3 linked regions of the Homo sapiens genome follow. The protein of the gene in region 3 purifies or fractionates together with the protein of the main gene of each other region. This does not show direct contact. Each region holds a gene or a part of one and is shown on either strand. Other genes may lie near its edges.

What was found.
Region 1: the proteins of WDR20 (region 3) and FERMT2 purify together in Homo sapiens (co-immunoprecipitation; 3 studies listed by BioGRID and IntAct, with this or other methods). This does not show direct contact.
Region 2: the proteins of WDR20 (region 3) and PHLPP2 purify together in Homo sapiens (affinity purification with mass spectrometry; 4 studies listed by BioGRID and IntAct, with this or other methods). This does not show direct contact.

What each region holds. Positions count from the first base shown.
Region 1 is NC_000014.9:52,946,329-52,957,122, reverse strand, and holds the start of FERMT2 (fermitin family homolog 2), read left to right. Parts: upstream 1-6,072; 5' UTR 6,073-6,202; intron 6,203-6,545; 5' UTR 6,546-6,554; coding exon 6,555-6,711; intron 6,712-10,794. UniProt on the Homo sapiens protein: Scaffolding protein that enhances integrin activation mediated by TLN1 and/or TLN2, but activates integrins only weakly by itself. Binds to membranes enriched in phosphoinositides.
Region 2 is NC_000016.10:71,649,496-71,660,423, forward strand, and holds part of PHLPP2 (PH domain leucine-rich repeat-containing protein phosphatase 2), read right to left. Parts: intron 9,321-10,928; coding exon 9,158-9,320; intron 8,869-9,157; coding exon 8,738-8,868; intron 7,187-8,737; coding exon 7,076-7,186; intron 5,940-7,075; coding exon 5,745-5,939; intron 3,527-5,744; coding exon 3,295-3,526; intron 550-3,294; coding exon 1-549. UniProt on the Homo sapiens protein: Protein phosphatase involved in regulation of Akt and PKC signaling.
Region 3 is NC_000014.9:102,204,016-102,213,074, reverse strand, and holds the end of WDR20 (WD repeat-containing protein 20), read right to left. Parts: exon of another isoform or gene 4,473-9,059; coding exon 3,195-4,472; 3' UTR 2,548-3,194; downstream 1-2,547. UniProt on the Homo sapiens protein: Regulator of deubiquitinating complexes. Activates deubiquitinating activity of complexes containing USP12. Anchors at the base of the ubiquitin-contacting loop of USP12 and remotely modulates the catalytic center of the enzyme.

The sequences.
Region 1 (10,794 bases), about 49 Mb from region 3:
TGATCTAATCAAAGGCCCCACCTCTTTATTTTTAATTAAAAAAATTTTAAAGTTTGTTTTTAGAGACAAATGAAAACAACAAAAAAAATTTTTTTAATTTGATTTTAGGGCCTCACTCTGTCATCCAGGCTGGAGTGCAGTGGCATGACCACTACTCAATGCAGCCTCAAACTCCTAGGCTTGGCCAGGCGCAATGGCTCATGCCTGCAATCTCAGCACTTTGGGAGGCTGAGGAAGGCAGTTTGAGGTCAGGAGTTCAAGACCAGCCTGGGCAACATGGTGAAACCCTGTCTTTACTAAAAATACAAAAATTAGCCAGGCATGGTGGCATGCCAAGTAGTCCCAGCTACTTGGGAGGCTGAGGTAGGAGAATCACTTGAGCCCAGGAGATGGAGGCTTCAGTGAGCCAAAATCGTGCCACTGTACACCAGTCCAGGTGACAGAGTGAGACCTTGTCTTGAAAAACAAAAGAAAAAAAAATTCCTGGGCTCCAGCAATACTCCCACCTCAGCCTCCTGAGTAGCTGGGACTACAGGTGCCCACCTTGATGCCCAGATAATTTTTTTTACTTTTATTTTTGCAGAGACATGATCTCACCATGTTGCCCAGGCTGGTCTCAAATGCCTGGGCTCAAGCGATCCTCCCACCTAGGCCTCCCAAAGTGCTGAGGTTATAGGCATGAGCCACTATACCAGGCCTTCCCCATCTCTTAATATCATCACATTGGGGGTTTGGATTTCAACATATGAATTTTAGGAGGACACAAACATTCAGACCATGGTAGCTATGTATATGCTAACTATATCTATATATATATGGTGACCATATATATAGTAACTCTATGTTTAACTTTTTGAGGAACTGCCGAACTGTTTTTCAAAGCAACTTACCATTTGCTTTCCCATCAGCAGCGTATAAGGGTTGCAATTTTTCCACATCCTAACCAACACTTGTTATCATCTTTTTTATTATAGTCCTTCTAGTAGGATGTGAGGTGTTATCTCATTGTACCTTAATTTGTATTTCCCTGCTGATAAATGATGTTGAGAATATTCTGTGTGGCCATTTGTATGTCTCCTTTGGACAACTGTATATCCATATTCTTTGCCCATTTTTAGTTAGGTTATTTGTCTGGGGTTATTGTTGAATTGTAATAGCTCTTTATTTATTTTTTATACAAGTCACTGAAAATATATATGATTTGCAAATATTCTTCCCATTCTATAAATTGCTTTTTCACATTTTGGTTGCTGCCTTTAAAATATAACTATTTTAAACTTTGATAAAATCCAACTTAACTATATTTTCCTTTGTTGCTTATGCCTTGATGTCTTATTTAAGAAGCCATTGCCTAATCCAAGGTCATAACGTTTAGTACTATATTTTCTTGGAGGAATTTTATAGGTTTAGACCTTACATTTAAGCCTATGCTGTATTTAGTTAATTTTTGTATATGTTGTACGTGGCTGTCCTTTCTGATGTTTTAAATATAAGCCTCCTGTATCAGATAGATGTTCCTTAAGAATTTGTGACATGTGTTATACATTTACATGCCTGTCTCAATGTCCTACACTGTGCTAGACACATAGTTACTGTGTTTGTACGTGTGAACATTTGATATTTTTGTTGAGGTGAAGAATATTTCACAAGATGTCCTGGTGTTCAAACTTAAGTCGGTGGGGGGAGGTGGGGGAAAAGGTATCCCGAGCATGGTTTCCTACATAAAACTTTCTGTAACTAAAGCAGTAAATGTAAGCAGTGCATTTCTTTCCCCTTAAAGATTTCACTGTTATCTCGGAGCCCTTCTTTGGTCTGTGAAAACAGCCATATTCCTAGCAAATCTTGTTTCTCAGTTTGCCAGTCCTTTTCTTGCTAATTACAGTGACTGCCCATTTCTGTCAAAAAAGTGGCTTTTGCAACCTCCCTTCCCATTTAGATCACATTCCACACCCCTGGATTTCTACCTCTTTAGTAGCGTTATTGGTGTGTGCCATTTTTGGCAATCCCCAAGACAAAGAAAGAATTCTACCCACCTGGTATTTGACAAGAATAATTCATTACATTTCATCTTGCTGGCCTCATGTCGCATTTTCAAGTCCCCCCTTACACATTTCACACCCACACAAATCCTCTCTTATTTTCTCCTACCCCCATCCTCTCTCCTTCTTTCAAACCCAGGGGTTATATTTTGAATTGACCTTCTAGAAATATAAAGCACAGTGCAAGTAGGCACAGAAAAAAAGCTAAAGTCAACCTGAGCATTACCAAGCCCGAGGGCTGCATTTGACGGCAGATCTGTGAGGCACTGCTTGGTCTAAATCTAAGTCCAGTGCTTGGTACCTTATTTGGATATTGCTGCTTTCATTGCTTGAGCTGTTCTTCCAAACACTGGCGTACTCAGCTACTTTTCAGTATGATGTAAGTACCACAAGCATTGCATTGTCCTAGTGGTTCTAGCAGGGGATTTCAGATAAGAGTCTACATTTGAATACATTCTAAATCTTAGGTAGAAGTGAATATTTAAGAAATGCACTTGAAAGCGTCACTTGATAAACTGGAAAAAAAAAATCCCAGTTTCAGAGAGGTGAGGCTGACTCCTCTTTAATCTTCAAAGCAAGTGACAGCTTGAAATAGTCAAAAAGAAGGCCTGAAGGGATCAGCTGCACCCAACCTAATCTAATTATTCTTCCACTGGTACTTAACTGAAGGTCCTTGCCTTCCTGTGCATTAATTGCTCAAATATATACTGCTGACTTTCTAAAGCCAGTAAAGTGTCTTATGAAGCTATACTCAAGCGATTTCAAATGTTAAGAAATAGGGCAGTTATTCACAATATTAAAATTCCCCACCCCCACTCTCTGTCACTAAATGTAGAGAACATTCGTAGAAGTGGATTCAGGAAAGCACGGTAGTTAGAGCAGTCGGTGCTGTCGTGGGGGTGTTCAGAAAGTAACTCTTACTGGAAAGTGGGAAAATAACTAGAATTTGGAAACCGAGTACAGATGCTCTGCAACTTATGATGAGGTTACATTCTGTAAATTGAAAATATTGTAAGTCAAACATGCATTTCATATACCTAACCTACCGACGAACATCACAGCTTAACCTAGCCTATCTTAAATGTATCCAGAACATTTACATTAGCCTCCAGTTGGGCAAAATGATCCAATATGAAGCCCATGTTATAGTAAAGTGTTGACTATCTCATGTAATTTATTGAATACTGTACTGAATGTGAAAAACAGAAAGGTCCTAGGGGTATTCAAAGTACGGTTTCTACTGAATGCCTATCGCTTTCACACCGTCATAAACAAAAAATCATAAGTCAGGGACCATCTGTATTAAAAGAGTTTCTAAACCATGACAGTTGGCTTCAACAATTTTGTCTGAAGGAAAGGGAATATTCAGAAAGGGCATAGATATTTTAGGTTCTAGAAAGGCATGTTTAGAAAGCCATAATTTTTTTGTAGCTTACTGGAGCATGTGCAAATGTCATAAGATACAATTCTTAGCTTCATTCCCAGCTCCATTTTAAATCTCTACTCCAAAATAAATAAATAAATCTCTACTCCACCCCTCTAAGCCTCCCAATCCCCACCCACCTTTTTTTTCTTGTTTTGTGCCACTTATAATGTATACTATCTCACAGTTTATGCATCCTTATACGTTGCCATAAATCTTTTGGGGGATAAAGTGGGGGAAATAAATAAGTATATTTTTAAAGTGGGGATTTTCCCATTGAGATTTGTTTTTTGTTTTTCTGCGATCAATCCAGGCTGGAGGGCAGTGGTGTGAATACAGCTCACTGCAGCCTCCACCTCCTGGGCTCAAGTGATCCTCCTGCCTCAGCCTCCCAAAGTGCTGGGATTATAGGCATGAGCCACTGTACCTGGCCCCTGAGATTTCTCCATGGAACAGACCCACTGTTTCTTTGACATTTGTGTTGGTTTGACACCAGCATGTTTTCCATTTTCTCTGTACCAAGCTATTGTGAATTTGTGGACAATGAAAATAATTTGAAATCTCTGCTCTTAAAGAACTCAAGTTTTCTTTAGAACTATTTAAAAAACACCAAAGGAAACCTCTGAAAATCCTGTCCATCGTTCAGTCAGTAGCTGCTGTATCCAGTGTCTATCATCGTGAATGTCATGGCATGTACAGAGAAACTGAAATGCTGGATGCAATTCTAGGTGGTGGTGTAAAGTTTTTGAGTTGGCAGAAAATAAAGAATAAAAGAAAGAAAAAACTTCCGTGATCTCAAGACCCAGAGAGCTTCTTAACATTTTGCTGTATTTCCTTACAGTCTTTTTCTCTGAACATTTAACGTAAATAAGCTCTTAATTTTATAGCTGCATATCCAGTTCTGCAGTTTTGTGCCCTAACAAGCAATTCCTTAATTTATTAAAAACATTTTCCTGTATATTTTCAACCCCATAATTTACATAAACTCCCTCATCTCCGGACATTCATATTGCTTTCAAGTGAACTATTTGGAACGTCCACGAGTAGAAATATTGGAGAGTAGACAGATAAGAGACTGAAGGCATCAATTTCTCCATGATAACTAGCTAAAAACACTGTAGTGGTTTTCCCTATTTTTTTTTCTGCCAAGCCTTTGGCATCTGACTAAATTTTGCTGCTTTCACTCCTTTCTGAGTTCCACCCCTTTCTTGAGGCCTCTCATCTTGTTTCCCAGTAATGTTAATGAACAAAAGGTTATCTGCCTAGCGAGTTCCTTTTCCAAGCGTTTGAGACAATTCGACAAGATTATGAGACTGCGAACTGGAGTCTTTTATCTTTAAAAGGTATTTTAATCTGAGCCTTCTTGACGTTTATTTTCTGAGCCCATGAATTTGCTAGCGAGGCAGTTTCTCTGGTTTGCTGTTTCTGAAAGGAGTTCCCTCAACAGAGTACAACAGTTAATGGGGGAAGTGGAAACAAAAGCGGGAAGCAGGAGGACCGTTCCCCATCACTAGCCAGTCTTCAACAGGTGAAGTTGTTTAGCTCTTCCTGGTACCTGCAGGCACCGTTCCAGAAGTATTAAAATCCAAGGTGTGGCTGAGGGTGGGATGGAACATGTATCTCCATCTAACAGCTTTAATAGACTGTTAGTTCTAACTTGCATATAAAAACACACAAATAAGTACAAAGAGCTGGAGAAGCTGGGGAAACAGTTTCTGAGTAAAACCTGTGGCACTAGGTTGTGTCTTTCCTTTCCCCTCAGGCAAGAGCATCATCTGTTTGACTGGCATCTGGCTGGAGCGTCCGAAGGGGTTAAGAACGCTTGCAAACTCCTGGGAGTCCAGTAGGAGTTGCTGATGGTGCCGGACATTGCTTGCAAAGCAATTTTTGTGGTTCACCTCCCTCGGGGTTTTCTTATTCTTTTGTAGGACATTCAAGGAGTTGGTTTGGGCATTTACTTTTTAAAGTTTCTCCGTCCCAGACTCCTCTCTCCAGCTCCCGGGGTGCGGCACCTCTCACCTCCCTGAGGCTTTTTGTCTCGCTGCAGGCGTGGGGAGGGGGCGAGAGGACTTTGTTCTCCGAAAACGACCTTGCCCTGGGAATTTCCTGGGGCCGTTTCTCACGGACAAGCCCCCTCTCCCTGCTGCCAGCGCGGACACACGCCGCGGGGGCCCCAGTCCAGCCTGAGCTCTAGACGCCCCGCCGGCCACCAGCGCCCCGGGAAAGGCCGCCCGCGCTCCCCCGCTCCCCCTCCTCAGGGCCCGCCGCCTAGAGCCCGGATGTTGGATTCAATTCCTGAGCCGGGTCCTTCATTTCCATAAAAGGGCAGCGCTCCGCGGGGCCGAGATTGCCGCCCCGCCGCGCCCCCCGCCACCCCCGCGCCGCCCCGCCCCACGCCGCCCCGCCCCGCCCGGGACCCGCAGCCCCCTCCCCCGAGCGCGGCGCCGGGAGGGCGGGGGCAGAGGCGAGGCCGGCCGGACCCGCTCAGGGCAGCTCTGCGGGCGGCGAAGGAGGGAGCCAGCGCGCCCAGCCCAGCCAGGCTCGGACAGAGGGGGCGGGGAGAGGGTGGAGCGCGGGGAGCCAGGCGAGGGGCCGCGACGACGGGACTCCATTAGCCGCTCCGGCCACAGGCAGCGCTTCGCCAGCCGAGGAACCGGACGCGGACACCGCCGCCCCGCGAGCCTCCAGCCCCTCGCCTGTTGCCGCGCGAGTCCCGGGCCCGGAGCGCTAGGAGCGCGCGGTGAGGGAGCGGGACCCCGCCGGGACCCGAGGGGGCGCGGCGGGGAGGGGAACGGGGAGTCAGCCCGCGCTGTGTCTCGGGGCCGGCCGGCAGGTGAAGCCCTCCGCGGTCCGCTAGGCGGGGACGGTGTGGGGCGGGCGGCGCCGGGACCGAGGAACGCTGCGGGGCGAGCGGGGCGTAGGGTCCTCCCGCAGCCCCGGCCGCCGCCGCCCTCCCGAGTTTCTGCCGAAAGCCCCGGGTCCTCCACCACCTCCCAGCCCGTGGCCGGCGCTGCGAATTCGGTGGGATTCGCCTTTCTTTGGGGGAGTGACGCTTACGAGAGCCATTTCCTCCGCGCTCGCAGGAAGGAGCCATGGCTCTGGACGGGATAAGGATGCCAGATGGCTGCTACGCGGACGGGACGTGGGAACTGAGTGTCCATGTGACGGACCTGAACCGCGATGTCACCCTGAGAGTGACCGGCGAGGTGCACATTGGAGGCGTGATGCTTAAGCTGGTGGAGAAACTCGGTGAGTAGCATCCCAGCCGCGTCCAACTAATGACTTCCCAGAATTGGTAGGGGGAGGAAAGAGGCTCACGACGGGGGAGGGGCCCATTTGAGAAATCTTGGCATCTCGCAAATGCTTTTTGGAGATGTAAAATCTTTCAGTATTTAAGCAGATAGACCTGTTCCCCTTTGCGTCTTATTTTGTTTTGCTATTCTCTGAATTTTCATATGTAATGATTCGAGCCTCCCAATTATAACCTTAATTGCGTAGTTACGCGGGACGGGGGATGTGTGCCGGGGAACTCGTTAATTCTTAACATTTACTGACAGAACGATAAAAGAATGAGGAAAGTGTGTTGGGAGGGTGATATTACAGTGTCCGTGGTTATCTATGTCTTCAGCATACCTGAATGTTAGTGACGTTTGGTATAGAGAATGATGCAAAATCCATTTAAGAAAAATCTGTGCTGGAAAATGTGCAACTACTGGCGCCAGTGTGAAGTTTCTGTGGCTGTTCTACGTGGTGGAGTGCATTAAAATGTTCCAGTCATCCACTCTTACTAGGGGTGGGGCAGTGCTTGACAAACTTGGTATCCATAGTCCATGCTCGATGTAAGCCGTTTCGAGCGTTCGGTTTTATATTAATAACAAGCCAAGGAAAGAACTTTGTGTTAAAAAGCAGACTTTGTTAAACTAATTTGAGGTTGACGGTGTTTGCTTGAGTACAAATATGTATTGGATTGATATCCGATTTAAAATAATAAGGTATCTTACAGTATGAAGTGTGTGAAGAGTGTGCAGTACACATTTTTGTGATGAATGAAACCATTTTCATCTGGAAGAGTCAGCTAAATAGATGATTTGATCATAAGAGAAATGCTCAGAGAACTATCTTCCTGAGCTTTAAAGAGCCTTTTGTACATAATACAGTTGTGATAAGATGATTATCTGTGTGGCATTGTCTTTTTAGGCTGGAATTGTTTTTTGTTTTGGTGAAGGGGGGTTGGGGACTTTCTGGGGGTTTTTTTCGTCTTTTTTTTTTTCTTTTTTTTTTTAAACACAGCATTCGTTTTCAAGCTACACTGGGAAAGTAGAGAAGTGCTTATTTGTCAGGAAATCTATTTCTTACCAAAGGATTATTGTATGTAAAGGTACTGAAATAGCACTCTGATGCATTTTGCAAAATAAGGCAGGATTCATTTGGGTGGACCTGCTTTGTACCCCTGCAGGAAGTTTTATTATTGAAGGACCAAAGTGAAGCTCCTTACAAGGTAGCCTCTTCCTTAAGACTGCATTGTTTGGCTCCCTGAGATACAGCTCAGGAAAGAAAATCCTCCTAGGTAGCCCAGTGAAAATTAGATTTTGCTGTATTGATTAACCATTTAACTGGCAGTTAACAGTATTTTTATCTGATTTGAATAAATCAGTCACTGTTTGCAAAATATGTATGAACCTTTTTTGTCCAGCTCTGGTATGAGATTATTTAAGAAGGAAAATAGCAAATATTTGGATATTTTGTTTTCAAAGAAAACAAGCATTTTTGTTAGAGCTTTTCTAATTTATGGTAAATGGACCATATTAATACATTGGTCTCAATAGGAGATATTTTTTATATTGCAAAAAAAGGAGCTGTTGAAGGTGACTGAGACAACTTGTAGTTCTCGAAAGCCAGGCTGTAGCTAATGAATAAATAATGGTTTCTATATTTATTTTGCATTGCTTAGGACTGTTTATTATAGAATCACAGTAATAAATAGAAATATAGAGAATAAACTGCAGACAGAAATGATGTTAATTTAAATGACTATAATCTTAATCTTTTAATGCTGATACATTTTTAATTTTTTATGCAGAGAAAAGAAGCCCAACAAGGTAGGAAATGCTGTGCGTATGGAAACCTTACATCTTTTCTGAACTGAATTCATACTGATTCCTCTTATATTTTGAATTCCAAATAGAAAGTGCCTCTGACTTTCCTGTTTGGTAAAAGTAGAGCTAAGTGATGCTTTTGGTTTTTAGGATTAGATGCTTTGAATGGTAAGCTATTTCGTTGCCTATCAGCAAGTAAATAGAGGAGAGATTCGGTAGGGCAGCATTTAAAACATCCACAAATCAGGCTAGTCAAATTAGAAAAGAACTTTGTAATTTTTCAGAGTTGCGTAAAACTGGAATGACCTGCCTTCTGAAGCCCTGACTTATGTCACTGAAGGTATTAAAGGGCAGACTGGATGACTACTTGCCAACAGTGGCTAGAGAGGATCAAAGCAGCTTGCAGAGTCTAGATAAAAGGTGGAGATGGTGGTAGGGATGAGATGGTACAAAGTCTGTTGTCTCAGGTTTGCAGAGCAGTGATGGAAAATTAGCAGACTTGGGCTACTGTGGCCTTGAAGCAGTTATGAACAGAAGACACCAGAGCATTCACTTACATTTTCAAACTCCAGACTGTCTGATATCCTTCTTAATCTGTTGGACGGTATATGAATACCAAAAGCATTATATTTTAAGGTGATTTTCCCAGATAATGTTCAGTAGCAGCAATTATTTCCCTGAAGTCGATAGATCTCAGGATGACCTATTCCCTCAACATTGTATTAAAATTGTGTGTGTGCACATGTGGAAGTTTCTAGGAAGAGGCTTCTTCACTTTAATTTCTCAAAGAGGTCTGTAACAAAAGAAGTCATGACACAATTTTATGGTTTGGCCCTTGTGTGTCAGGTTCATCTTGAAGCTAGGGTTCATCCCAGAGTGCGGCATTTTAATTAAGCACGACATAAGTGTAAATAATGTTTCCTTAATATGTGTCAGTAATATCTTTGTGTTTAGTTAGACTTTTATTATAAATAACGTGTACACTTTGCTTAAGGCCATTAAAACACAATTTTTAGAATTTTGACTTTAATTCAAAGATCTGAAAAGTCTCATTTATTTATTTATTTATTTATTTTTTACTTTTTGAGACGGGAGTCTCACTCTGTCGCCCAGACTGGAGTGCAGTAGCGCGATCCCGGCTCACTGCAAGCTCCGCCTCCTGGGTTCACGCCATTCTCCTGCCTCAGCCTCCCGAGTAGCTGGGACTACAGACACCCGCCACCATGCCTGGCTAATTATTTGTGTTTTTAGTAGAGACGGGGTTTCACCGTGTTAACCGGGATGGTCTTGATCTCCTAACCTCGTCATCCGCCTGCCTTGGCCTCCCAAAGTGTTGAGATTGCAGACGTGAGCCACCACGCCCATCCTAGGTCTCTTTTAAATCTCAGTATAAAACACATTTGTCATTTGCTATTAATCTTTTAAAAGAAAGCAAAAGCATATGTCATGAAGTGGGCTTTGGGGAATTATATCGTAATGTGACAAAGTTTTTGCATTTGTGACTTAGTCTAGGCTGATACTTCATAAATAATTGATCCCCTCAGTGTTTATACTTCATCCAGAAAGTGAAAAACACCCTAAAATCCAGTTTAGGTTGGGTACGGTGGCTCACATCTGTAATCCCAGCAGGCAGGGAGGCTGAGGCAGGTGGATCACCTGAGGTCAGGACTTCGAGACCAGCCTGACCAACATGGAGAAACCCCATCTCTACTAAAAATACAAAAATTAGCTGGATGTGGTGGCATGTGCCTGGAATCTCAGCTGCTTGGGAGGCTGAGGCAGGAGAATCACTTGAACCTGGGAGGCGGAGGTTGCAGTGAGCCAAAATCACACCACCCAGCCTAAGCGACAGAGCAAGACTCCGCCTCAAAAAAAAAAAGAATTGTGAAAATTTAGTACTGTTTGGTTTGGTTTGAGGCAAGGTCTTGCACTGTCACCCAGGCTGGAGTGAGTGTGTGTTCATGGCTCTTTGCATCCTCAAACTTCTGGGCTCAAGTAATCCTCTTGCCTTAGCTTCCTGAGTAGCTGGAACTACAGGCACGCACCACCACATCTTGCTGACTTTTAAAATTTTTCGTAGAGATGGGTCTTGCTTTGTTGCCCAGGCTGGTCTTGAACTCCTGGCCTCAAGCAGTCCTTCCACCTTGGCCTCCCAAAGTGTTGGGATTACAGATGTGAGCTGCCATGCCTGTTTTTTTTTTTTTAATCAAAGACAAATTTCAAACGTGTATAGTGT
Region 2 (10,928 bases), on a different chromosome or scaffold from region 3:
TGGGTGGAGGCTGCAGCGCCGCTCTGGCCTCGGAAGCAAGGCAGTGTCCAGGCCCCCAGCATTATGCTCATCAGAAGCAGTGGACCCCACTTCACTGCTCACCTCTGAGGTGGACATCTCACTGCTGAACTCAGAGGCAATCCCACTGCTAGAGGATGGAGTGGCTGGCTTAGGGGCATCCTTGATAGTGGTGGTTGAAGCAAATCCCACAGGACCTGGGAGGGTGAGCCCATTCATTTCACAAGTGCAGCCTTCCTCACCAATATTCAAATAAACTACCATCGCCCCTACATTGTCCTGACAGCCATAGCTCTGCGCTAATGTGCACAGCTTCTTAGCAGCTGCTAATGGGTCTTGTACGTGACGTACAGCATTGACAGCTTCTGTGTAGGACAAGTGTTCCCACAATGCTTTGTTTCCCAGAATCAGCAACTCATCTTGAATGGTCAGCGGAGTGGAAGATATGTGGGGCTTGGGGAGGATCCAAGGGTAGAGGTATGTACAGCCCAGCATCCGGGTACAGCAGGTTACCCCATTCACTTTGTTGTCCTACAGAAGAGCAGGACACAAATTCTGAGAAACAAGCAACGATGAGAGCCAACTTATCTTTCTAGATCACAGTGCTTAGGGAACTATAATAAAACAATTTATATATGATTTTTCCTATGGATTAGTATAATTTTAAATGGATGCACACAAATAAATGTAGAGAAGTCCTAAAAGACAAAATATTATATGGTTACTATAGAGCCAAGTAAAAATAAGTGACTAAAAGGCACCACCATCCCAAAAGATGTTTGCTTTAACATGAAGAACAGGCCTCAGTATGTCTATAAATAGAGAAACATGACAGAAAAACAGTAAGCAGAACTATCATTAATTCTCTATCACTAGTACTCTCAGAGAGGATGAAACAGAAAGGTCACTAAAAGTGATTTCTCACTTAAAGGGATGTCAGCTGGGACTGAAAAGATACCAATGGCAAAGACAATCTTGGCAGTTAAGGCATCAAATAATCTCTAAGGTTATTCAGCCTAAAAAAGGGGAGTCTGAGATGTGCAGCATAATTTACCTATGCTCTGGGGACTGTATCAAGAATAAATAGCGATCAAATCAAAATCCCTGTAATTCAAAACTTAGAGGAAACAGAGTAACCCTGCTTGCAGGTTGGGAATGCTCACAAGCCAGACACTTTGTTGTACTGATTTCAAGAAACGAAAAAAATACAAAACAAAACTCTAAAGTCATCAATAAATTAATATCACAGTTGCAATCACCCTCTGGGAGAAGACCTGAGCTTATTCGCCAGAATTTGTCATAAACTCTAAACTGTACTTTCTTCATCTGTAAAATGAAAATGGGAGTTTAACAACTACCCACTGAATTAGAAACTCTGGGGCTAGGGCCCAACAATTCATGGGAGTTACTGTTAAGATTAAGGAAAATAATAAAGGTATGGTGTTTGGCAAATAATGGACAAACAATAAATGCTTGTGGCTAAAATAACATTTATAAAAATACTTCCTACTTGTCTACAATCCCCTAAGAAAAATCTAAACATTGGCCAGGGACGGTGGCTCACGCCTGTAATCCTAGCACTTTGGGAGGCCGAGGTGGACGGATCACCTGAGATGGGAGTTGGATACCAGCCTGACCAACATGGAAAAACCCCATCTCTACTAAAAACACAAAATTAGCCAGGTATAGTGGCGCATGCCTATAGTCCCAGCTACTCGGGAGGCTGAGGCAGGAGAATCGCTTGAACCTGGGAGGTGGAGATTGTGGTGAGCCAAGATCACGCCATTGCACTCCAGCCTAGGCAATAAGAACGAAATTCTGCCTCAAAAAAAAAAAAAGAAAAGAAAAATCTAAACATTATCCAAATTCTATAAAAAGACTAGTCAAACAAAAAGTTATCTGAAGCCAGGCGCAGTGGCATGTGCCTATAGTCCCAGCTACTCAGGAGGCTAAAGCAGGAGGATCACTTAATCCAGGAGTTCAAGTCCAAACTGGATAACACAGCAAGACCTTGTCTCTAAAAAAAATAAAAATAAAATAACTAAAAATTTAAAACACTATCTTTTATCTTTCATTTGTTTTGACTGAAAGAGCTTCCCAAAACTAATGCCTCATACTTCCAGAATTCTAATAGTATCAATCACATAAAAATGATGGTTTTTGATTTTGTTTCCTTAGATGAACTCTAATATAGAATTCTGACAAAACAGCCCAGAAATGGACCCACACAAATACAGTCAACTGATCTCTGAAAATCAAAGAGCAAAGACCATACAAAGGATAGTCTTTTCAACAAATGGTCCTGGAACAAGAGGACACCTACATGCAAAACATGAATATAGATACAGAGCTTACACTTTTCACAAATATTAACTCAAAACAGACCATGGACCAAAATGTAAAACACAAAACTAAACTTCTAGAAGATAACACAGAAGAAAATCTAGGTGACCTTGGGTTTGGCGATGAGTTTTAGATACAATACCAAAAGCACGATCCATGAGATAAAAACTGACAGGTGGGCCTTCATTAAAACTAAAAGCTCTGCAAAAAAACACTGTTAAAAGAATGGAAAGACAAGCCCCAGACTGGGAGAAAATATTTGCAAAACAGGTATCTGATAAAGAACTTGTTTCCAAAATATACAAAGACTCTTAAAACTCAACAATACAGAAACAAACAATCCAATTTACAGTTCTCAAAAGATCTGAACGGAATTCATCACGGAATTCCACTTTGTGATAAACAATGTTCACAAGTAATTGCTAAAGTTCTTCTGAAAGCAAAAATGTTAATTTCTAAAAAAGGAGAAAAGCTATAAAACAGTAGAAATACTGATGTTTCATTATCAAAAGAGAACACCAGAGCATACTACACCACATAGAGTATAAACACAAAACATTTTGAAACTTTGCATTTCAGAATGGGGATGTCAAACTAGAGAACTCTTTCTTCTATTTGGAATAACAAACCAGATGAGCTGGAAATTAGCTAAGGCAGATATTTAACATCCATCTTACAACCCAGCTATCAATATACAGGATCACAAATTAGGATTTTGTATTTCTAATTCACTTTGCTTTTTCTTTGTGCTAGTCACTAACTGATCAGATTTTCCTCCAGTACTGTTGCTGAAACCATCTGCATTGAACTTTTATCTGGATTGGATACAATTTACAGGGCATGATAGGAAGAAAATGGGCCTTCATCACCTCTACACAAAGCAGCCTCCACTGATTTGGGGAGCAGAAGTGACTGGCGGGGAGCGGAACACACCTCTGTGATGATGGCTTTTTGGTCCTTCACCCTTTGAGCCTCCTCTGGGTCCTGCTCCAGGCTGAAGACTTTAGAGAGGGGCACTGGCTTCCCACCTCGGCACAGGACTGCTTGGCACGTGCCAACATTGGCTACAGTCAAGCTAAAGCTACTTGCTGGATCGGCAGTGTCAGGGCGGATGTAGCACAGGAGAGCGGAGGAGCCCAACTTCTGGCCAGCCATTCCTAATTTCCTGTTCAGAAAGAAAAGGAAAAGAAGACGTGGTGGCTAGTTTTAGAAGAAAGTGGTGGTCCTGCACGTACATCCCTTCTTTTTTTTTTTTTTTTTTTTTACCATGTGATCGTGAACCAGCCTTACCCTTATCCACCTAAATGCAGACTTGCTGTGGCTGATGGTGGTGGAGACAGTTCTGCCTTCCACTCTCGCTGAGGAAAAGGTTTTACAAAAGGGAGATAATCTCCCTTTTGCATCTTTCTCCATAGCTTTTGTGTCTGATCAAAGACTTCCTAATTCAGGGGCTCTCAAACTTTAACACATCAGAATCCCCTGAGGGCTTGTCAGAACAGGGACTGCTGGGCCCTAGGCCCAGAGTTTCTGAATCAGTGGGTAAGAGGCTGGCCCAATAAACTATACTTTAAGCAATTTCTGGTGAGGCTGAGAGGCTGCTGTTCCTAGAACAACACTTTGAGAACCACTCACTTAGGTTCTAAGTTCCTCGAGGGAAGGACCATGATTCTTGCATTTCCCCCATATGCAGGGCATCCACGCGTCTGTACTTGGAAACAATGTTAACGAGGAACAGACACTAGCAGAAAGACCTAGTTTCAAATCTCAGCTCTGCCATTTTCTGGCTACAGACACTCAGCAAGCCATTTCTCCAGGAAATTTCTCTGATAAAATATATAGCATGGAAAATACTTGCTACAATTCCTGGCTTGAGTTGCTTCATAAATGGAGTTCCCTTTCCTAAACCCTTTATTTTTGCAAAGTCTCTAGCTCAATTATACTACTGAAAAACTGACTTCTTCCTAACACTTTGCTTTGTGTTATGACAGATAAAACTAATTCAAGCCCATCCTGGCTAACACGGTGAAACCCCATCCCTACTAAAAATACAAAAAATTAGCCTGGTGCAGTGGCTCACGCCTGTAATCCCAGCACTTTGGGAGGCCGAGGTGGGCAGATCACGAGGTCAGGAGATCGAGACCATCCTGGCTAACACGGTGAAAACCCATCTCTACTAAAAATACAAAAAATTAGCCGGGTGAGGTGGCGGGCACCTGTAGTCCCAGCTACTCGGGAGGCTGAGGCAGGAGAATGGCGTGAACCCGGGAGACGGAGCTTGCAGTGAGCCGAGATTGCACTACTGCACTCCAGCCTGGGGGACAGAGCAAGAAGACTCCGTCTCAAAAAAGAAAAAAAAAAAAAAAAAAAAAAAACTAGTTCAAGCTCCAAGCTGTTCCATTTCAACCTGGATTATACAAGTTGACAAACAACCTCTCAGTTGTTCCTATCCTTTATCGGTCCACCTGACATGCAAATGCTCCATTACAGTTAGGTTATACAGATGTCCTCAACTTATGATGGTTCAACTTAAGATTTTTTGACTTCACGATGGTGCAAAAGCAATACTGTATGCATTTAGTAGAAACTGTACTTTGTATTTTGATCTTTTCCTGGGCTAGTGACATGTGGTACGATGTTCTCTCATGATGCTGGGCAGAGGTAGCGACCCATAGCTCCCAGCCAGCCACTTGATCACAAGGGTAAACAACCAATACAGTGCCCTGTGTCACCACATGATTTTGCCCAACTATAAGCTAATGGGGTAAGCGTTCTGAGCACACTTAACGTAGGCTAGGTGAAGCCATGATGTTCGTTAGGTTAGGTGTATTAAATGTAGTTTCTACTTACCACATTTTCAACTTATGATGTCAGGCTTACATCCTTATCAGGGTGTAACCCTATTCTAAGTTGAGGAGCATCTGTATATGGTTTTTGCCCTTAAGTGGCTTATACTTTACTTAGAAGATTAGTTTGGTAAAACCCCAGAAAGAGGCATTCTAAACGTTATCAATCTGATAAGTATTTGGTTAACTGTTTTGTAGGTCACTGACTGCTTGGACAATCTTATGAAAGCTGACCACCTTCCTCCTCAAAATGTACAACCACATATATATACACACACAACATTTTGCACATAAATTCTGGGCTTCCCAGATCCTCAGCAGCCTTTGGATTCAACAGAGAAAACAGATGACCCCCACAGGCTTTTGAAAGAGCCGAAGTCCCCGCACTCCATGCTCATATAGAGAATGATCATAGAAGACAACAACGTGAGTTCTCTCCTTGATCCTGTATCCATAATTTAGACCCTGACCTTCTGGTTTAGAAAAATATATTTTCCAAAAGTAGAACTGAGTTAGGGATTTTTCAACCCACCTGCTTACCTGTGAGATACCAAGAAGGTGTTAGCCATGAAAACTGTGTCATTAGTTGACTGCTGTACCTCTTCTAAAAGCACATCTGCCATCGTACACTGCAGCAGGCGCGGGAGCTCCTCATTTCGGTCTCCATCAAACATGCCATACACAGCTCCCACCCCCTCTGCAAAGCTATCCATAGCAAGTGCTGAGACACACAGCCTATAATAGAAACATGAAAACAGAAAACAGAAAAGTTACTGGTAAAATATTATTCTCCAGGGAGCATTCTTTTTTTTTTTTTTTTTGAGAGGGAGTCTTGCACTGTCACCCAGGCTGGAGTGCAGTGGCATGATCTTGCCTCACTGCAAGCTCCACCTCCCAGGTTCACGCCATTCTCCTGCCTCAGCCTCCCGAGAAGCTGGGACTACAGGTGCCTGCCACCACGCTGGGCTAATTTTTTTGTATTTTTAGTAGAGATGTTAGCCAGGATGGTCTTGATCTCCTGACCTCATGATCCGCCCACCTTGGCCTCCCAAAGTCCTGGGATTACAGGTGTGAGCCACCGCGCCTGGCCAGGAGCATTCTTTTAAAAAGTAAGTATTAATTAAAGGTGGCAAAGACTACTAGCAAATCGTAATCTACACGTAAGAAAAGTCCCTAGACATGATAATTAAGCAACATCTGAAAGAGCTAATGTCCTAAGGAAAGGGGAAACAGTCGCATTCATGGGCAGTACATATTAGCTTTGCAATGCTGCCAAAGGCTGGTAAGATAAAGCACTTTCTCTTAGTAGTGACTAAGGATTAGCTTTGTCAAGGCCTATCAGTCAAAGACCACCAGAGCACACCTATGGTTGAAAAAGTTGAGTTTATTACCCCTTATAGCAAATGAGAGTGCACCCCATGGAACCCCGGGGTATACAGGTAAGTCTTGCTGAAAAGAACCCAGTATAGGGTTTGGACTTTGGTTTGGTCACTTTGGGGAGGGTCTAAGGAAGAGGATCATACTAGACTGGGTGTCATCAGAAAGTGAGGCCATTCTATTGCTGGGTATAAAACTTATCTATAGGGAAGGAAAATTAGCAGAAGGATAAAGCTGTAACTGGTAAAGAAAGTAGCATCTACCCATCTTAGCCATGAAAGGGGGTGTTTGGTATTCTGTTGACTACACATTAGTATTGTTTTTGTCTTAAAACGTTATCATGATCCCAAAGGGATCTTATCTGACGCTGATGTTCTATGATTTGTCTGTGTACAACAGAACAACATGGCCTAGCTATTATGAGCATCAGGCCAGTTCTCAGATGCCAGGGGCTGCCTTTTTTCTTTCTCAGTCTCCATGGCCAATATACTCACTTATTTCTCTGCCCTGCCATCTCAGCCAGTCCATGGCTCCAGAAGGTTGACGTAACTGTAGAATCTGTGGTTGGCAAAGGTTTCTGATCAATTTTCAGGGTTGTGATATGGCTGTGGGAGGTGAAGGAAGATTAAACCATATATTCTTCTGTATTTTACAAAAACTATCCCAACAATAGTATTCTTTTTTTTTTTTTGAGATGGAGTCTCCCTCTTGTCACCCAGGCTGGAGTGCAGTGGTGTGACCTCAGCTCACTGCAACTGCTGCCTCCCGGTTCAAGCAATTCTCCTGCCTCAGCCTCCTAAGCAGCTGAGATTACAGGTGTATGCCACCATGCCCGGCTAATTTTTGTATTTCTTTATTTTATTCTATTTTATTTATTTATTTTTTTGAGACGATCTCCCTCTGTTGCCCAGGCTGGAGTGCAGTGGCGCAATCTCGGCTCACTGCAACCTTCGCTTCCTGAGTTCAAACGATTCTCCTGCCTCAACCTCCCAAGTAGCTGGGATTACAGGCACCTGCCGTAACAACCAGCTAATTTCTGTATTTTTAGTAGAGACGGGGTTTCACCATGTTGGCCAGGCTGGTCTCGAACTCCTGACCTCAAGTGATCCGCCCGCCTCGGCCTCCCAAAGTGCTGGGATTACAGGTGTGAGCCACCGCTCCCGGCTAATTTTTGTATTTTTAATAGGGATGGAGTTTTGTCATGTTGACCAGGCTGGTCTCAAACTCCTGACCTCAGGTGATCCACCCACCTTGGCCCCTCAAAGTGCTGGAATTACAGGCGTGAGCCACCACGCCCGGCCAACAATAATATTATCTTTTTTTTTTTCTCTTTTTTGAGAAGGAGTCTCGCTGTGTCGCCCAGGCTGGAGTGCAGTGGCGTGATCTCTGCTCATTACAAGCTCCGCCTCCCGGGTTCACGCCATTCTCCTGCCTCAGCCTCCTGAGTAGCTGGGACTACAGGCGCCCGCCACCTCGCCCGGCTAATTTTTTGTATTTTTAGTAGAGACGGGGTTTCACCATGCTAGCCAGGATGGTCTCGATCTCCTGACCTCGTGATCCACCCACCTTGGCCTCCCAAAGTGCTGGGATTACAGGCGTGAGCCACCGCACACGGCCAATAATATTATCTTTTAATAAAATAATCTATGGACTGACTAAGATTCATTTCCAGAGAGACTGATGAAAGTAGTATGCTGAACTACTGGCAAAGAAGGAGGGGAGAGAAAGGAAAGGGGTAGGAGGATCAAAGGGGTAGGAGTTTCAATAAAAAACTAAGCACAACAAAGATTTCTATGTTTTAGCCAACCATCTATTTATGTTAAGTATTTTGATACAATGAAGTCTTGGTACAATGGATGAACTTGTATTGTCTCTTAGATATTATATAATCTGTGCCACCTAAAACATCTATGCCTGTTGTGAAAATATTCAGTATGTTGGGGGGTAGTAGCCATGGAGTAGTCCTAATATAAACAGGTTGACTACTGGATAGAACATCTATTCATAACTTAATCAAAGAAGAGAACCTAGGGGCTTTATAGCCTAACTTCATTCTGTTCTTTTAATTAATCAAGATCTCCACAGTACTAAGGAAGACCTACACATGGCTGGTGGGCTAAGAGCACATAGAGATTCCATTTCAAATTTTTTCCTACCTAAATATGTCCAGTGTCTTGTGTTCCAGAACCAGATTTGTATTTCCAGTCAGGTCAAGGTCTTGTAATGTAGCAGGCAAAGCCTCTGGAATCAGGATTTCTGTCAAGTCGTTGCAACTTAGGTCTACAAACTAAGAAAAAATTGAGAAATCAAAAGAAAATACATCACAGAGACTTAGTTCTTTACTCCCAAGTGTCCAATCTCTTACTATATCCCCAAAGAGGAACTTAATTTCTTCCCAGGAATCCATTACATAAATTCTGGTCCCAAACTGGAGCACATAAGAAGACAATAATATTTTTCCTTATAAGAATAATCTCATTCACACTCCTTTCTTCTTCTTTATAAAAGGAAAATAATGTCATTCACTCTCCTGCCATTTCCCCCAATAAGGACATCATTCCAGCACACAGAAGTACCTGGATCTGAGGCAACTGCAGTATTTCTGGGAAAATGCTGATGTTGTTGGAGTGTGCAACAAGGGTGTGCAGCCTTTTACAGTTTGCTATGGTTGTGGGAATGGTTTTAAGCTTGTTGCCACTTAGGTTCAGTTCCTCCAATTGCTCCAATTTATTTAGTTTGCTGAAAAAGAAACAACAGAATACTATAATGCACCAAGACTGAGCAGCTGCCAAGGAAGTGCTATTCTACAGCAGCCACAGAGTACAGAAGGCCGACACGGTCCACTGCCAGATGACTGGTGAGAAATGAAACCGATACCAGGAATACCAGGAAAGGCAATGGCTCAAGAAGATAACTACTCCTGCTATAACTAAGCCTGATCTGCCTCAGTGTGTTTCAAGGGCTGTTGGATCTTGTGGGCAGGAACATCTTCCTGTTACCTAATGTACAAAAAGTGGCTAGAAAAGGAGTGGCCTCAAGTTGGGGGATTAGTCTTGATGCTTGCTTTACCACTAACTAGCGGCAAAATACTAAGTAAGTCAATGTCAGCAGTCTTTAATACCCTCAGCTGTAAAAAATGAAAAATGAGGTTGTACTAAATCATCACAAAGATTTTTTTTTTTTTTTTTTTTTGAGATGGAGTTTCACTCTTGTTGCCCAGGCTGGAGTGCAATGGCCTGATTTCAGCTCACCACAATCTCTGCCTCCTGGATTCAAGCAATTCTCCTGCCTCAGCCTCCCGAGTAGCTGGGATTACAGGCATGCGCCACCACGCCCGGCTAATTGTGTATTTTTAGTAGAGACAGGGTTTCTCCATGTTGGCCAGGATGGTCTCAAACTCCCAACCTCAGGTGATCTGCCCACCTCAGCCTCCCAAAGTGCTGGTATTATAGGCATGAGCCACCGCACCCGGCCCATCACTAAGATTCTTTACAGTTTTAAATTTCTATACTTACCCATTCATGACATTAACTCATCTCCACTAAACATTTATCAAGTTCTTATTATACACACAGCACTGTGCTGTGAGGCAAGTGATTCACACTGTTCCATGACTGAGCAAAGCTTTCTACATGGTAAGCAAAATAACTTAAGTGAGACTAACACCTTCAGGTTATTACAAATAGTTCTAATTTATTTTGATTTATTGGTTTAAAAATTACAAAAATAATAAACTGCTGTTAACATGGAGAGAAAGTGAAAAATAAAGAAATACATCACCAATACCAGCAATCTGAAAGAATCACTTTTATCATTTTGCTGAATTTCCTATCAAATGTTTCATATATTTGTTTTACAAAAATTTTATATCTTGCCTTTTTCATATAACATATCATAAATAATTTCTACTCCTAGAAATTTCATATTTTTAAATAACTAAGCTTTGTAAATTACAATTATTTTTTCTGATAAAAATAATATATACTCACTGAAAAAAACTGAAAAATAGAGACAAACAGGAAAAAAAATCTTTTAATGCTACTTCATTAAAATAAATTAAATAATCTCTGATAACATTTTAGTAGATAGTATTCTCGTCTTTCTTAAGGCATGAAACTACACTTTTCAAATTAAAAAATGGTATTATAGGCCAGGTAGGTGTGGTGGCTCACACTTGTAATCCCAGTACTTTCAGAGGCTAAGGCAGGTCAGTCGCTTGAGCCCAGGAGTTTGAGGCTGCAGTGAGTTATTACTGCACCACTGCACACCAGCCTGGGTGACACAAGACCTTGTCTCAAAAAAAAAAAAAAAAAAAAAAAAAAGGTACTATATTATATACACTGTATT
Region 3 (9,059 bases):
CACCTTCAGAAGGTGTCTGACACCGCCCAGGGACCAGCTCGCCCCCTTGCCGGGTGGGAGCGGGATTCTCCAGCCACGCAGCGTGCACCTGACTTTCGTCTGAGCCTTTCATCTCTGTGGTTTGGTACACGCTGGAACAGTGATGCTGACTGAGTATTTAACAGCCTCTTCTTGCCAAATGCTGTGTTTTATTCCACAGATTAGGTTAGAAAAGATATTCTTGCTCATAATAACGTTTAGGCTGAAAGACTGAAAAATTTCAATGAGGAAGCTCAAAGTTTGGCGAGAAAACTACAAATATTTTCCCCAAATTTCTCCTAGGGTTAGCAGCACGCATTGCACCTTACACACCTGATATCAGGAACCACCGCGGCCACCCCTCCCCAGGCCCTCCCCAGGTCTGCGGGAGCCATTACTCAGAAGCACAGCCGAGGAGAAGGGCGCTTCCCTGCCCCTCTCTCCAGTGCCCTCTTCTCAAGCTGTTGGGCACTTTTAGTTCTGGTCTTGGAGAACACCTTGCATCCTGTCCTCCTGCCTGCAGAAGTGCTCTGCCGGCTGTCAAAGAAAGGGGCAGCAGTCAGAGGGGCAGAGTGGACACAGAGTGGTGTCGCCCTGCAGGGCCTGGGCCAGCCTGGGCTGAGCCAGGGGTCAGGACATGCAGTCAAAGGCAGCCCCTCCCCAGGCTGGCACAGTGCTCTCCACTGGGCCCTGAACCCAGCAAGAGGGGCCTTGGGGAGGGCACGTAGACACAACGAAGGGGCCCCAGACAAGGTACCAGACAGACATTAAGGACAGTACACTCCTTGGCAAAAACTGGAAGAAAAAGATTGTTATCAAGCCTCAAATCCAAAACTGACAATATCATAGTGTTTAAAACTGGAGGTGGGGGGAGAAAGACACACACAGGCCTCCATACTAGACAGCACACTTCGGAGTTGTTTTCAAAGGAAACATAACCTCCTCCTCTTGCCTCTCCCACCCCTGGTTCCTATCAGCAAATGACTCCTAAGTCACCTGTCAGTGTACCCCTGCAATCCCTCTTTCATCCCAGCCACTGCGACTGAGAATTTTAAAGAAGGGGGAGAAATCAGAGAGTCCCCAGTCGGTCACGTTGGTTACTCGGGCACACACCCCCACGGCTTCCCTGTCCAGGGCAACACCTTCAGAACTGCAAGGTCGCCAGAAATGTCACCATAAATGCTACTTACTTGGGATCGGCCACTCTCTATTTAGGCCAAATACTAAGTCCTGAATTTTGAAACTGCATACTCAATGCCTCAGAAGCATTTGAAACTGAACGTTTACAACTATGTAGGTGCAAAAGTTGCACATGGAGCGTTCATCACTAATCTCTCCACATGACCCAATTTGGCCTCCAAAGCGGAAACTGTCCACAAGGATGGCTGTCATGGCTACCTTAGATCAGTTCACCTTTAGGAACAAAGGCCCGTATTCCACAGGTAGAGAGGACACGAATACTCCTAGGAGCAGTGCTCAGGGATGTGAAAGGCACAGCCAGGAGAGATGCACCTGAAGGCTGCTGTGGTTCCCAGGTGGCAGCACGCGGCCATGCCATCACACTCAACAGAAACCACTGCGTTAAGGCCCACGATGGGCACAGGGTGGATGGCGCCACCGTGACATGTTTGCAGATGGGAAGCAGGCCTGGGAACCTGGCCCGGCTTTCCTGGGAGGGCTGCGTTAAGAGCACAGGGAGCTGCTGCTTCAGCTACCAGGGTCTTTACACTGCAGAGAAAGAAAAGCCACCAGGTCTTCACTTTGCTGAATCATATTCACTACGCAAACTGGTCTAAGTGATCGTTGTCTCTATATTTAATTACAAAGGTGTACAACCTAAATGCCCAAAATGAGTTAACAAGTAAGATAACCACCATCTTGACATGGAATACATAGTTCAAGGGGCCATCTCACCCACTGGGAAAACCAGAATTTGAAAAGCAGCTCCTGGTGCAGCAGTAGAGAGTGAGGGTGAAAGACTGCGGTCTCCGGGGGAGCAGCAGAGCCTCCCACTGCCGAGGAAGCCACAGGCCACCAGGTCCTGGGCTGAGGCGCTAGGGTGGGAGCCACTGAGGACGAAGCCTACGCACATGGCCAGCGTCAGCATCCCAAGAGTAATCCCGGAACCACAGCTGCCATCCAAGAACAAGGAGAGGGGAAACCTGCACTTCCGCTTCCTCTGCGGGGGACGAAGCCCAAACGAGGGCCATGTCAGGGAGAAGTCGGAAGACTCGGGGAGTCTCAGGCTTTACGAAACAAAGCGCGGAGGAGTCACGTGCCTTTCTGACCCAATCCCCCTCCCCCACCGCACCTCCCCGCCCCCGGCAAAAAACCAAAAAACTCCTTTTCCCTTGTTGGGAAAACACACAAGCAAAGTGCATCTGAAGAAAAGGTCTTCGCTTATGTGGCAAGAGGCACTTCTGCAATGCTGTTGGCGTCCTCGGCCCGCAGTTCCCACGAACTGTCAGGCTCTGAGTGAGGTACGGGTATCTTAGTACACAGAACCTCAATCAAAGTGCTACAAACTGCTTCTTTGAAAAAAGATGTTTATTAAACAACTTTAATTGTCATAAAATGACTAAAATGGGTTTTAAAAATTAAGGCTCTTCTCTTTCTGTGGATTGCCAGAACAATGTAAAAATAATATCAATCAACCCTGCTAAACGTTTTGTTCCTAAAGTTAAATTTCATAGATTCCTAAACATTTTATGATTAAGATAAAAAATTGGACTATAAATGACAATTCATGGCCATCTGTGCTGAACACACATTGATCAGGTGTACAATATTCTAATTGAGTAGTTAAGCAAAAAATATTCCAGTTAAAGCATAAATTTTAATTTCAGCATTTTAAAGTCATTGTTTCCCCACATGGTCATGATTTTCCTAAAATTGAAATAGTCTAATACAGGAGCGCTAACCTTGGGACTCTATATACTCCCAGGAGGATGACTGACTTGGCTGGCAATTAGTTTGATTATATTTTTTTAAATGCTCTAAGGTAAATTATCAAATGATTCAGAATTACATGGCATGCAGTATCCAAAATTATGGCTCTGATGCATTGAGATTTACATTAAGAATAAGAAGTGTCATTCACATTCATTGTACACCCCACCCCTCCCACGAAAAAGAAAAAAGTCACTACCTATTCAAGTTCTAGATCTGGTGCAGCATTAAGGATTAAAACTTACCACTTTACCAGGCCTTCCCCATGTGCAAATAAATCCCTCCTGACAAGCAGTGACTATACAGTCTTCAAGAAATATTAGTACAGTCAGTCTCTCATGTGCTATCTTTTTACATATCAGCGGCTCTAACAAGGGAACATCTTCCATTCGAGGACACAGGGGCGTTCCCAGAGTTTTAGCAGGGTCCGTTTTGGTTTTGGTAACTAGATTCAGTTTGTCACTGCTCTTGCTAGAAATGTGTCCCATGCTATGATTTCGCTTGTGATCTTTCTCGTGGTGCCTCTCCTTCCGGTCATGTAGTGAAAGTGTTGCAAATTTGCTGACCCCAGAAGCAATGGCCCCGTCCATGACACTGCTTTTGCTGCCAGCATTTGAGACTGCTGAATGTGGAAGGCTGTTGGACCGTGGCAGAGGAGGCGGCACAGAGTTCCCGGGTGTTGTAACACTGTTCCCATTGCTTCCAGCAGGAGGACTCGTGGCATTCATGACATTTGTGTGTGTCCTTGCTCTTGAGAGGGGTTGGTGAGGGAAAAGGATATCTTCTGTAAGGTCCCATAAACAGAGCTGTGTGTCCTGGCCCACGGAACCAAACCGATACGTGACACTTACGGGGCGGCTGTCTGTAGAGTTCCGTTTGGAGAGCCTGGACTGTGTACTATTTGCTCGATCTCTGCCAAAATGAAGAAGGTCTTGGAAGTCCTCATCGCTGCCACTAAACTCCATAGGGTCACCTTCTTCTACACTAGTGGTATAAGGGTCAAACGCTACAACACTGACCCAGGACTTGTGCCCGTGGCCTCTGGCTATTACTCGGCAGTCTACAAAGGACCAGACTGTCACCAAGTCGTCCTCCCCACCTGTCACGATGTACTTGCCATCCGGGCTCCAGCACACACACAGCAAGCCCCCAAAGTAGCTTTTCATCGTACCGTGCAGCTCCACTGAGTCAAAGTTGAACACCCGCAGAAACCCGTCCTGGCTCACGCACGCTAAGAACTTGCCATCTGGGGAGAAAGCAAACTCGTTGAGGGCCCCCTCGCCCACCGTCCACTTAAGGAGAGGGTTCCTCGTGGATTTGCTCTTGCAAGTGTGCACGGCAAAGCTCTCTCCCTGCTTCAGAAGCTGGTAGTGGGGGGCTGTGGTGCCACAAGTGTGCTCCACATTATATAAGTACATGTTCCCACTCGAGTGGGCTACTAGGAAAAGGCTTTCCGAACCGGGAACCCATTTGACACAGGTAACTCGTGACTTGTCTATTAGTCTCTGTGAAGACAAAGGAGAACAAGTTAGCACAACGGAGAAGTCTCAAAGGTCTACTTTTCCAGCAAGAAAACTTGTGTGCTTCTCGATGGGAAGGGGCAAGTCTATCCAGGCCCTCCACATTTTATCCTGCAGTCAGCCAAGCCAGCAAGGAGCGTTTTGGCCCTTTTGGGGTAATTTAGAATTACTTTCTAAAATCGGTGTTAGGCTGCTGGCTTTCACGGAGGGAGTCAGGCAGCCAACAGATATTTGCAGAGGGGCCACTAAGTGCCAGACACGATGCCAGGCACAGGGTTCACTGCGGAGGGAACAGCCCTGCTGGGATCTTTCTTCCTTGACAGTAGGTGCATCTGAATCTGGGGGTCACTGCATCTGCATGTGGTATCCCCTCTACGAGGACCTGCAGGTGAAGCCTGTGAGTCCTCACAGCCAGGAGGGCTCTGCCTCACCCTCACGGGTTCCTCTGCCTTTACTGTCACTGTAGGTAATGGGCTGGTTCCATCTGCCCCTCTGCTCTGGCGGCTCGAAGGTGGGGAGTGAAATCCACAGTCCATGGCTGGCAGCACACACAACTCCAAAACAGAGCCTGGGCCCACTGAGGCCGCCTCACTCCCATGCACCGCCCCACGTGCATCTCCATAAGCATCTCCTCGAAACCCTCTCTGCTGGTGTTGAGAGAGATACACTGACGATTCATTCGGGAGTGTGTGTCTCATTACCATCACTCTGCTCCATATGCTAACTTTGGACCCCTGACCGAGATGTTTCTTTAACAGGCGTATGTCAGTAGTCTTGCCTTTAAAACCCAAATAACGAAGGGCAAAAATACCTGCCCCACCAAAGGCACAAGTCTCTTTCCCTGCTTGCCAATCAATCCTGTGATGGGGATGCCAGCGCAACACCTTCCACAGGGGCGGTCCCTTTCTGGACCGTCTGAGCGCAAAATCGCATCACCAGAACACATCCAGAAGTCCCAAGACTCCCAAGTTCTACCTAGAAGCTCCTACTGCCAAGTGCTCTCCACTGCACCATCGCCCCAGTAACAGTGTCCCTTTAGGAGCCCAGCAGCCCCAGGTAAGTTGAACACCACCGCTTCACCTAACAGGTGGGGAGTCCCTGACTCAAGTCTCAGAGGGGTACTGGGCACACAGGGGCAGAATCTGCCAAGAAACATGCCGACTTCTGCCAGGGTGGCTTTGAGGCCATGTGCCCGCCATGTGTGCTACATCTTTACAGAGAATTACAGAAATAAGACGACTTGATTTTTAAAAGAACGGCTGGGAAAGAAATTAATGAGCCATGCAAGCTCACTGCATGAACATTAGACCCTAGAAAGTAGGCTGCTAACAAAGGACCCCAGGCAGGAAGAACGGAGGCCTGAACGCCACACAGCATGCGGGCCCAGGGCTGGGGACCATGCATTGGGCAGTTACTCAGCAGCAGGTGTCACTGCTTACTGCCGTAAAACGGCATGGCTGGTCCTCTTAAATTAATAGGCACGTGGCAAGCCAGCCTTGGGGACACAGCCAGTATTTTCATCCCCCACCTCCTCTTTATCCTCCTGCCTGGTGACCTACCTATAAACAGCACCTGACCTGCACTAATGCCAACAACCTAAAACCCAGCGCTGCTCTGGCAGGATTTCCATTAGACCTTCGTGCAATTTTCTCAGCAAGGGGTTACAGAGATAATTTACATGGCCAGAGCAGGGCTTTTTTTTGATGGTGGAGGGAGGTGCAAGGATGATGGGATGGTGAACGGTGGATTAAGAGGCCTCCACTCCCCCATCACAGCTCTGCCAGACCTTGCTGTGCCCACTGGGCCCAGACTACCCCAGCACTCTTGATCCCACAAACACAACTGTACCTGATCGCCCAGGGCCTAAGGGTGTCTGCAGCTCGCTCCATCACTGGCCTTGTCAGGCAGGCCTACACCAGCTAACTCAGGCCTGGGAAGCCAGACTGCTGTCCTGATTTTGGTACAGTGGCTCCCAATTCCTGCACCTTACATTTCACCAGAACCAAATCAAATCCCAGTTTTTCTAGGATCACTTCATTGTTACTCTATTTACCATGTGTGGAGAAATTTCAGGACATAAAAACTTCTAGCAGCACGGTTAGGAGTAAATTTTATTTTGGGCCTTAAAAAACACAACAAAAAACTGCATGAGAACTCAAAAACTAGTATGATCAAGTAAAAACAGTATTGCTTTGCAATAGTGAGGTATGAACAGCATTTATAGCACCATTAAAAATAAATGTTACTGCAATGACAAAACACATTAAAAACCTTCACTCCCGTATTAAGAAGCTGCACTGTGGCCAGGCGCGGCGGCTCACGCCTGTAATCCCAGCACTTTGGGAGGCCGAGGAGGGTGGATCACTTTAGGTCAGGAGTTCGAGACCAGCCTGGCCAACATGGTGAAACCCTGTCTCTACTAAAAATACAAAAATTAGCTGGGCATGGTAGTGCGAACCTGTAATCCCAGCTGCTCTGGAGGCTGAGGCAGGAGAATCACTTGAACCCAGGAGGCGGTGGCTGTGTGCAGTGAGCCAAGATCACGTCATTGCATTCCAGCCTGGGCGACAAAGTCAGACTCCATCTCAAAAGAAACAACAACAAAAAAAAACAGTGCACTGAGACGACCCTAAGTAGACACATGGATGTAACTTACAGATAACATCCTGTGCCAATCTACTTCAATCCCCCTGTGGGGGCCTAATTAAATGTTACTGTGACACACTGGCAATGGTGGACTGAGCACACCAGTTTAAGCAACCGCAGACCAAAAAAAAAAAAAACCGACCTTGGATCCACCTGTATTGTGGTAAGGGTTTCTCACTTGCCTTACCCATTGTTTTTCTCTGTCAATCATGTGCTTGACAGCAGGGAAAACACGTGCTTCTCTGGGGGCGCCCTGTGTCTCAGCAATATCAGGGTGAGTGGCAGGCAGGCAGCAGTGTCTGTGGGCAGCAACAGCAGCGTGCTGGCCCTCACTTCCAATCAGAGTGTCTACTGTGGGTGCTGGCCACTGGTAGAGGCTTACACCCATGCTCTCTAAGCCTCAAAATTACCTTTCAAGATACGCTTTTTGTGTGAATGGGTAATACATTATTAATTCACATAAAAGTATACAGTAGAAAGCCTTACATTCTTCTACTCCATTCCGGATCCTCTGTCCTGAGTCACTGTACTAGTTTCTCATTTCTCTCTCCAGAGTGTCTTTGTGCATGTACAAGGCAAATATGAATACGCATTTATCCACTCTTCTTTTTCATACCAAAGGGAGCATACTATGCACTGTCTCACCTCTGCTTTCTCATTCCATATCTTTTTTTTTTTTTTGAGACAGGGTCTCGCTCCATCACTCAGGTTGGAGTGCAGTGGTGCAATCACGGCTCACTGCAGCCTTGACCTCCCAGGCCGAAGCAATCCTCCCACCTCAGCCTCCTGAGTATAGCTGGTGCTTCAGGTGAGTGTCGCCACACCCAGCTGATTAAAAATTTATATTTTTTGTAAATACAGGGTGTCGCTATGTTGTCCAGGCTGGTCTCAAACTCCTGGCTTCAGGAGCAAAGCAATCCTCCTGCCTTGGCCTCTCGAAGTGCTGGGATTAAAGGCGTGAGCCACCATGCCCAGCCTCCAAGTGTATTTGTACATCAGTCTGTATGGGCACAAAGACAGCATCCTCATTCTTTTCTAAAGCTGCAGAGTATTCAACTGTTTGGATAAACTGTGGTTTATTGTGGAAGTGCCCCACTGATGGACATCTATGTAGCAATGAATGCCCTTGCACACACGCACTTTTCACATGTGTGAGTAATGTACCTACAGGATAAACTCCCAGTGGAGTAACTGAGCCAAAAGATATATACATTTATGATTTTTACAGATGTTACCAAATTGCCTCGCATGGAAAATGGAAAATGCAGTCATGCCTGTCTCCCTACAGGAAGGCAGGGATTGTCGCCATATTATCAGTGAGAAAAGAAGCTTAGAGAGGTCAAGAAACTTGCCTGAAGTCCCATCCATCCATCCAGTATTGAGTGCGTACCATATGCCAGGCACTGATACAATATAAATTAAAACAGGCATCTTTCCCTCATGAAATTTAGGTTCAAGTGGGATGAGAAGACAGTGAAATTTATGTGATCTGATGATGATAAGTGCTGTGGAGAAAAATAAACCAGGGAGAGAAGAGAACGTGCTGGGGAGAAGGGGACTCTAGTGATTTCAATGTTGAATAGGATGGCCAAGAAAGGCCTCTTCCTCTGCTGGTGCTGGACAGCTGAGCAAGACAGAAGGACAGAAAGACAGCAAATATCAGGCTAAGAGGATGTTTGGGGAAGTGTACCCCCACAGAGAACAACTTCAAGGACTCCGAGGCGGAGAGACACAGCCGAACCAGTGCCAGGGGAACAGACGGGCCCATCAGACCCCAAAGCGAGCATGCTGTCTCCCGTTCCACAGACACACATCACCTGGCTCCGACGACCAGCCTGCAGGGCCACTCCCAAGCGTTCTAAGGAACAGGGCACCAGCCTGTCTCAGACCCCAGGCCAGTGTGGGAAGCACAGTCATTTAACTTAC